3 separate regions of the Homo sapiens genome follow, and regions 1 and 3 are each linked to region 2. Evidence: fine-mapped expression QTL. A gene starts in region 2. Each other region holds a variant in brackets. All regions are shown on one strand. Distances are from middle to middle.

Region 1 (2,763 bases), 49 kb after region 2:
AATTAGAAATACCATTTGACCCAGCCATCCCATTTCTTGGTATATACCCAAAGGATTATAAATCATGCTGCTATAAAGACACATGCACACATATGTTTATTGCAGCATTATTCACAATAGCAAAGACTTGGAACCAACCCAAATGTCCATCAATGATAGACTGGATTAAGAAACTGTGGCACATATACACCATGGAATACTATGCAGCCATAAAAAATGATGAGTTCATGTCCTTTGTAGGGACATGGATGAAGCTGGAAACCATCATTCTCAGCAAACTGTCGCAAGGACAAAAAACCAAACACCGCATGTTCTCACTCACAGGTGGGAATTGAACAATGAGAACACATGGACACAGGAAGGGGAACATCACACACCGGGTCCTGTTGTGGGGTGGGGGGAGTGTGGAGGGATAGCATTAGGAGATATACCTAATGTTAAATGACGAGTTAATGGGTGCAGCACACCAACATGGCACGTGTATATATATGTAACAAACCTGCACGTTGTGCACATGTACCCTAAAACTTAAAGTATAATAATAAAAAACAAAAAAGAAAAAACACCACAAAGCAGAATTCATAATATAACTATGGTTATATATATATATTTTAGGGCTCTTCCTTGAAATAATTAAGAAAGTATTGATACAATCTTTTGAAGAGAGTTTTAAATTTCATTTATTGGATATATCTTCCTCTAGGTAATAATAAAAATACATGAAAGAAAAATTCATGTATTTTGGTCACTACTGCAAGAATTAAAGAAAGAGGAAAGAAACATGAAAGGTGGCTTGCCAGTTAAGACAGGTTTATTTTAAAGAAAACAAACCCGAGAGGAGCCTTTTGGCTGAGTTAGGTTAGAGGCACACTTTTTTACAGACTAAGAGTTTTTAAGGATTCAGGGTGGGAGAGTTTATTAGAGGCTTGGACTGCTTCTGTGTTTCTTTGTTGTGTTTATTTGGGAGGGATAGTTGTGTGTTTGTTCCCATACATATTTTTTTGCAGCTGCAAGCATACACCCCAAGTCTGCTTTTAGCTTCCCTATCTTAGTGCACCTGAAGGGAGAGGGAAAAAACAAAAAAAACAAAAAAAACCTTTCTGGATCTGCCTTTAGGTTCTGCATGCCAGGCAGGCCCGACTGCACAGGGAGTGAGCCGTGGCGCTCAGGACGTCCACTTCCTGGGACAGGACGGCCGGGTCACGGATCCGCGGGAGCCGGGAGGCCCGCGGGCCGC[G/A]CACAGCCCTCGGGCGGCCGGGCAGGCCAGAGCCCGAGGCCACTCCGGGCTCAGCGTCGAGCGGCTGGTCGGGTCTCCATGCATCACGCCGGGGAGGGGCTGCGGCGGGCGCCGGGCCTCCAGCGAACTGCCGCCACCGCTGCCCTGCCACTGCTGCTGGGCTGGAGCTGCTATGCCTGGCCCCGCCTAGAGCCTTTTCTTTTCTTTCTTTTTTTTTTATTATTATACTTTAAGTTCTACGGTACATGTGCACAACGTGCAGGTTTGTTACATATGTATACATGTGCCATGTTGGTGTGCTGCACCCATTACCTCGTTATTTACATTAGGTATATCTCCTAATGCTATCCCTCCACACTCCCCCCACCCCACAACAGACCCCGGTGTGTGATGTTCCCCTTCCTGTGTCCAAGCGTTCTCCTTGTTCAATTCCCACCTATGAGTGAGAACATGTGGTGTTTGGTTTTATGTCCCTGCGATAGTTTGCTGAGAGTGATGGTTTCCAGCTTCATCCATGTCCCTACAAAGGACATGAACTCATCATTTTTTACGGCTGCATAGTATTCCATGGTGTATATGTGCCACAGTTTCTTAATCCAGTCTATCACTGATGGACATTTGGGTTGGTTCCAAGTCTTTGCTATTGTGAATAATGCTGCAATAAACATATGTGTGCATGTGTCTTTATAGCAGCATGATTTATAATCCTTTGGGTATATACCCAGTAATGGGGTGGCTGGGTCAAATGGTATTTCTAGTTCTAGATCCTTGAGGAATTGCCACACTGTCTTCCACAATGGTTTAACCAGTTTACAGTCCCACCAACAGTGTAAAAGTGTTCCTATTTCTCCACATCCTCTCCAGCACCTGTTGTTTCCTGACTTTTTAATGATCGCCATTCTAACTGGTGTGAGATGGTATCTCATTGTGGTTTTGATTTGCATTTCTCTGATGGCCAGTGATGATGAACATTTTTTCATGTGTCTTTTGGCTGCATAAATGTCTTCTTTTGAGAAGTGTCTGTTCATGTCCTTCACCCACTTTTTGATGGGGTTGTTTGTTTTTTTCTTGCAAATTTGTTGGAGTTCTTTGTAGATTCTGGATATTAGCCCTTTGTCAGATGGGTAGATTGTAAAAATTTTCTCTCATTCTGTAAGTTGCCTGTTTACTCTGATGGTAGTTTCTTTTGCTGTGCAGAAGCCCTTTAATTTAATTAGATCCCATTTGTCAATTTTGGCTTTTGTTGCCATTGCTGTTTTAGACATGAAGTCCTTACCCATGCCTATGTCCTGAATGGTATTGCCTAGGTTTTCTTCTAGGGTTTTTATGGTTTTAGGTCTAACATTTAAGTCTTTAATCCATCTTGAATTGATTTTTGTATAAGGTGTAAGGAAGGGATCCCGTTTCAGCTTTCTCCATATGGCTAGCCAGTTTTCCCAGCACCGTTTATTAAATAGGGAATCCTTTCCCCATTGCTTGTTTTTCTCAGGTTTGTCAAAGATCAGATAGTTGCAGATATGTGGCAT
Region 2 (2,763 bases):
AAATGCAAAAAAACCCCTAAGAAATTCAATTAAAATTAATAAAATCGTTTTATTCGCGCTCATAGCAGAGGGAACTAGTCTAACAGGCTAAAAGCAACCTCCTGAAAGGAAGAAATCCTATCTCAGGTAGTGGAGCAGTCTCCTGGACCAAGCAATGTGCTGTCAAATTGTATAAGATTAACGGTTTTCGAGGAGGGAAAAACGTTTTGGCGATGGGACTAGTTGAGGAAAAAGCACTCTGAAGTGCTGATTCCCGTTCAGTTCAGCCTAGAGACTGCAAGATGTCCCACAGAAGATGACATCTTGTTGAAGTCATGTGCTACAGCAGGCAAATCAGGAGATGCAAAGAGCCAAGTTTCATCCCAACTTTTAAAGCAACTTTTAAGCATCCCCACCCTCACCCAGCTTCCTCCCTGGACCTTGACCGGGAGGGTGCAGGAGGTAAGCCTTTGGGAGAGGCAAGGACTGCGACAGTAAAAGCGCCTAAACTCGCCCACGACCCGGGCTGGGGGATAACTCAAACTTTCCGTGCCTGGAAAGGCTGCCTGGCGGCGGAGGCGGCGCCGGCGCGCGGAGTCCCTGCGGGCGCCCGCACATCCCAGGCAGCTGTGCGTTCGTTGGGGCGGTTGCGCGGGCGGCCACCGCCCCCCAAGGGCAGATGGGGCACGGGGCGGTCCGCGGGGTCCGGCTTCCAGCCGCCCCCGCCCCGCCCGTCGAAGCAGAGCCCGTGAGTTGCCTCGCGCCGCGTCCGCGGGGCTCAGACCGTTGGCAGCGGCAGTTCGACCGTTGGCGGCGGGACTCAGGCGGCTCGCGGCGTCGGCTGACAATTTCAACCCCCCGCCCCCGCCCCTGTCCCATCCCAGGGCACTCCGGCGGGGGTGAGGGGAGGACCAGATAGCACGAGGCGACTCCAGGGAAAAGTTTTGTGGCGCCCGCTGCGCCGCTCCGACGGCCCGGGGACTGCGGGAACCCTGCCTCCCACGCGGGCCCGAACCACCCCCGGGAGCCACCCGCCCGCTCACCCATCCGTGCCCGCAGCTCTCTCAAGGATGGGCTGCCGCCAGCGCCAGCTGCGGCGCCGTCCGCCATCATCGGAGTCGGGACCGGAGGCGGTGGTGGCTCTCCGCATACATTGCGCAGGCGTCGGCGCGGCCTCCGCTTGGGTCGTGGCCGGGCTGCCGGTGGGCGGGGCGGGGCGGGGCGGGGCGGGGCGGGGCCCGAAGGGCCACCGCGCCCGCCTCGGACCTGCGAACCGGGCAGGATTGCCCCTTGCGTCCCACGTCCTGACCGGCTGGGCAGCGACTACCTGGTCTAAAGAAACCCTCTCCTATGTTCCGTGCTCTGCCCCTACTGCATTGTGAGGACTAGCCAATCAGCACCCAGCTTGGCCCCCCCAACATTCCTTTCTTCACCTTTACCTAGCAACACAGTAACATTCCTTCCTCATTCATTCATTCATTTAAAGAACATTTACGGCGTGCCTCCTGGGTGCGCTTGTATCATGAGTTTACTAGTCCTTGAAACATTACACAAAGAAAGACCCAAGTTGGGGGAAGAAGCCTAGGGAGAGGTTGGGAGTCGCAGGCTTGCTTTGAGGTGCTAGGGGCCCCATCATGAGTAGGCTTCCCTAAACTGTTGCACAATAAATCATGACACATAGGTCTCAAAGTTGGGTGAAATATCTTTAAGATGTTTGTGAGTCTTCAAAGAGAGGCAGAGGACTTATTGGCATCAATCTCTCCGGATTTTGGGAGAGACTCTACCAGGTTGCAGAATGTTTTTCCCATTCACAAGGAAAACCGTCATTGGCCTGAGGCTCCTTTAAGGGGCAGACCTCACTTCATGGGGGCTTGCCCTTATGAGGTGGAGTCACCACTGTTGTGAGTGTGTGTGTAGTGACATAGTTGTAGGCACGCAGTTTATGGTTGGGGCCATTAAGTGTGGTGCAGGAGATCCCAAAATGGGGCTGGACCACTTGTGAGATGGGCACTTTGGCGAGACCACTGAGTCTCCAAATGACATGGGAGCTGTAAAATGGAAGAAGCTAATAATAGCATATATTACATATGTTAGCAATGATAGCATAAGTTACATATATTAATATATAATATATATAATATGTAATATGGGGCAGGCACGGTGGCTCATGCCTGTAATCCTAGCATTTTGGGAGGCTGAGGTGGGTGGATCATTTGAGGTCAGGAGTTCGAGACTAGCCTGGCCAACATGGTGAAACTCCGACTCTACTAAAAATACAAAAATTAGCCGGGCATGGTGGTGGGTGCCTGTAATCCCAGCTACTTGGGAGGCTGAGGCAGGAGAATCGCTTGAACCCGGGAGGTGGAGTTTGCAGTGAGCCATGATAGCACCACTGCACTCCAGCCTGGGTGACAGAGCGAGACTCTGTCTCAAAAAAAAAAAAAAAAAAAAAAAGAAAAGAAAAGAAAAAGAAAAAAAAGACATTACGTTGCACCTACAATTTTAACAAAAATTAAAACGTGGTCAATAAGTGTTTGCGATGATGTAGATTAATACAAGTGGGGGGCCAGGCACGGTGGTTCACACCTGTAATCCCAGCCCCAGCACTTTGGGAGGCCCAGGCAGGTGGATAACCTGAAGTCAGGAGTTCAAGATCAGCCTGGCCAGCATGGGGAAACCCCGTCTCTAGTAAAAATACAAAAATTAGCTGGGCGTCGTGGCGGGCCCCTGTAATCCCAGCTGCTCGGGAGGCTGAGGCAGGAGAATCGCTTGAACCCGGGAGGT
Region 3 (2,763 bases), 33 kb before region 2:
TAGCACACATTTATATGGAACTGTAACAGTGTTTCAACACAAGACATTTGTGCAGAAAAATAACAGGAACTCTTTTGTTAGGATGATTGTCTCTGTTTTATACATGAAAGAGCTAGTATATAAAAATAGTTTTTAAACCAAAGGTAACCTTCTCTATTCTATATCAAAAGTACAATACTCTGAGTGGCAAAGAACCAGGGAATCTGAAAGAATTACCTCCTTTTACTAATCCAAGACTGGCAGCCAAAAGGAACACTGGCCTGCTTCAGACTATTTACGATTCAACACTGAAAACTCATTAGGAGAATTAATCTGCATTTGAATTTTATGGAATCATATACTGTGTGTGCATACATACGTGTATGTACATCTGTGTGCATTTCTGTGTGCCCATCACACGAACTCACTGGCAGCCAGTGGCTAGAGAAAGGCAAGCAAATTTTGGTTGTATCTCAAGCCTGAGTGTATACTCAACGACAGAACTGGAGAGTACAGGCAGAAAAGTACTTTAAACATTTAGAGGAATTAAACATACCCCACGGGACAACAGCCATATACTCCTTTATGTACACAATAAAAATAATATATGTTTCTGTAGATAAACACCAATATGTCCTTCAAAAGGAAACACTGACAAGAGCATGAAAGGTGCTGACTGTTCCAAGATGGGGCTTTACAGGACTCCCAGCATTTCAGGTTATTAGTGCCTGTGTACTCACTGGCACAGATGGGTAGAGTTAAAAATATACATATATCACAGTAAAATACAATTTGCTGGATTTTGCAACCTTTGGTATTTTTATATTAGAAACAATCTGACAGCTCTTGTGAGCGATCCTGCGGCCCTTGCATAATCTATTCTGTTCTCTACAAGATCAACTGTGAGTTTTTAGCTGTCAAAATTGTCACTGGTACACAGAAAAAGCATTACTTGGCTGGGTGCAGTGGCTCACACCTGTAATCCCAACACTTTGGGAGGCCAAGACGGGTGGATCTCTTGAGGCCAGGATTTCGAGACTAGCCTGGTGAACATGGTAAAACCCTATCTCTACTAAAATACAAAAAAATTAGCCAGGTGTGGTGGCACATGCCTGTAATCCCAGCTACTGGGGAG[G/A]CTGAGACAGGAGAATTGCTTGAGATGAGGAGGCGGAGGTTGCAGTGAGCCGAGATTGTGCCACTGCACTGCAGCCTGGGCGACAGGGCAAGACTCCGTCTCAAAAAAAAAAAAAAGAAAAAGAAAAAGAAAAAGCATTACTTTAAGATTTCAAATATATACTGAAAGAGAATTAGTTCTGCAATCAGATTCTTCTAGAAACTCCACAGTTACAGTTTCAGGAAAGCATCCTTGATGCACTCACTCCAGCAAACACATTGGTGGGACAACACAAGAATGAGAGACAATGATGATTTTCCAAAGAAAACAAAAACCACTCTTTACTTAGAACTCTTGCTTAGACACAAGAGAATAAGATGACTTTAACATCTGAGATATACATCAAAGTGGCCTTTTGACAGTTTCTTTCAATTTTTCGGTGTCACTTCCTTTACCAGGTTCAAGTCAGAAGCAGAAAAATTTGAGGACTGATGGGCCCAGGAGTTGAGTTATCCAGAGTGGAAGATGTATTCATCTCCCAGGCTGAGTAAGGTTTACATATCTGACCAGAGGGAAAAGTAAAAGAAAGATCAGTAGAGAAGATGCTAGTCTCACAGCAACTTGTCCCTGGCCTCCCTTCAGGGCACACGCCCAGGACTCTCAGCAGCCCCTCTGGAGTTGCTGACACACTGGTCCTATAAATGTCCTTCACTTCCCCAGTCCCCAACCAGGCCCAAGGTGCTTCTCAATTTCAAAGAGAACTTCTCAAGGAAAGAAAAACAAGAGGCTTCTGGTTTTGGAAACAGGTTGAGGCTTATTCCGAAGACCTCCCTAATCTTCTGCCCTAAGCAACTGTCTGTGTGCTTGCCAAGCAACCAGCAGACCAGGAGCTCAGAGGAGTCTGAGATGCAAGCTTGAAAAGATCATTTTTTTTTTTGAGACAGAGTCTTGTTCTGTCACCCAGGCTAGAGTGCAGTGGCAGGATCTCGGCTCACTGCAACCTCCGCCTCCTGGGTTCAAGTGATTCTCCTGCCTCAGCCTCCAAAGTAGCCGGGATTACAGGCATGCATTACCACACCCGGCTAATTTTTGTATTTTTAGTAGAGACAGGGTTTCACCATGTTGGCCAGGCTGGTCTCAAACTCCTGACCTCAAGTGATCTGCCCGCCTTGGCCTCCCAAAGTGCTGGGATTACAGGCGTAAGCCACTGCACCTGGCCAGAACTTATTTTTTATATCCGGCCTGAAATGTGGTACATAAAAATTAGAATCAAGTCATCTACTCTCTACTTTCTCAAAACCAACTTAATGGAAGACTCTCACATCATTCCTGCAGACCCACAACTGTCTTCTCCTTCTCTTCCAAAGCTATATGGTGCAAAGACTGCCCTGGAATGGCTAGAAGGAGGGGAGCGGGTTCAGGGTCAATTGCCTTTCAAGAAAAAGGTAGATGAGATGAGGACTTACCCAAATGAGGAGAAACAGGTTTGCTTCTTCTCTTATTGTCTAAAGGTGTCTGAGGACTTTGGCAAGATGTCATGGAATCCTTCAGATTTTGTTTGTGCCTGTCAGGAGAAAAATGTGACAAAGATAGTTCTGTGTGACTTAAACAATGTTGGTGATCTTGTCACAGATACGCTGCTGCTCATAATTCATACTAACAGAGGATCT

What was found. PIP is the estimated chance that this variant, and not a neighbour inherited with it, causes the effect.
Region 1: its variant is the best candidate, but not a certain one, in a credible set for the expression of MAP7D3 in whole blood (TOPMed, PIP 0.50).
Region 3: its variant is the best candidate, but not a certain one, in a credible set for the expression of MAP7D3 in blood mononuclear cells (TOPMed, PIP 0.90).

Annotation. Positions count from the first base shown.
Region 1 is chrX:136,299,142-136,301,904 of GRCh38, forward strand. ADGRG4 (adhesion G protein-coupled receptor G4) reads left to right here and starts at 1,822. Exons shown (of 26, transcript NM_153834.4): 1 at 1,822-1,859. The variant G/A (reference allele first, on the strand shown) is at 1,238.
Region 2 is chrX:136,250,267-136,253,029 of GRCh38, forward strand. It overlaps MAP7D3 (MAP7 domain containing 3), which reads right to left and starts at 1,134. Exons shown (of 19, transcript NM_024597.4): 1 at 1,023-1,134. The coding sequence starts at 1,092. RefSeq lists a silencer at 851-1,240.
Region 3 is chrX:136,216,839-136,219,601 of GRCh38, forward strand. It overlaps MAP7D3 (MAP7 domain containing 3), which reads right to left. Exons shown (of 19, transcript NM_024597.4): 17 at 2,755-2,763; 18 at 2,560-2,657; 19 at 1-1,655. The coding sequence ends at 2,592. Among named protein-coding and RNA genes, the nearest start is that of FHL1, 21 kb to the left of the region's middle. The variant G/A (reference allele first, on the strand shown) is at 1,115.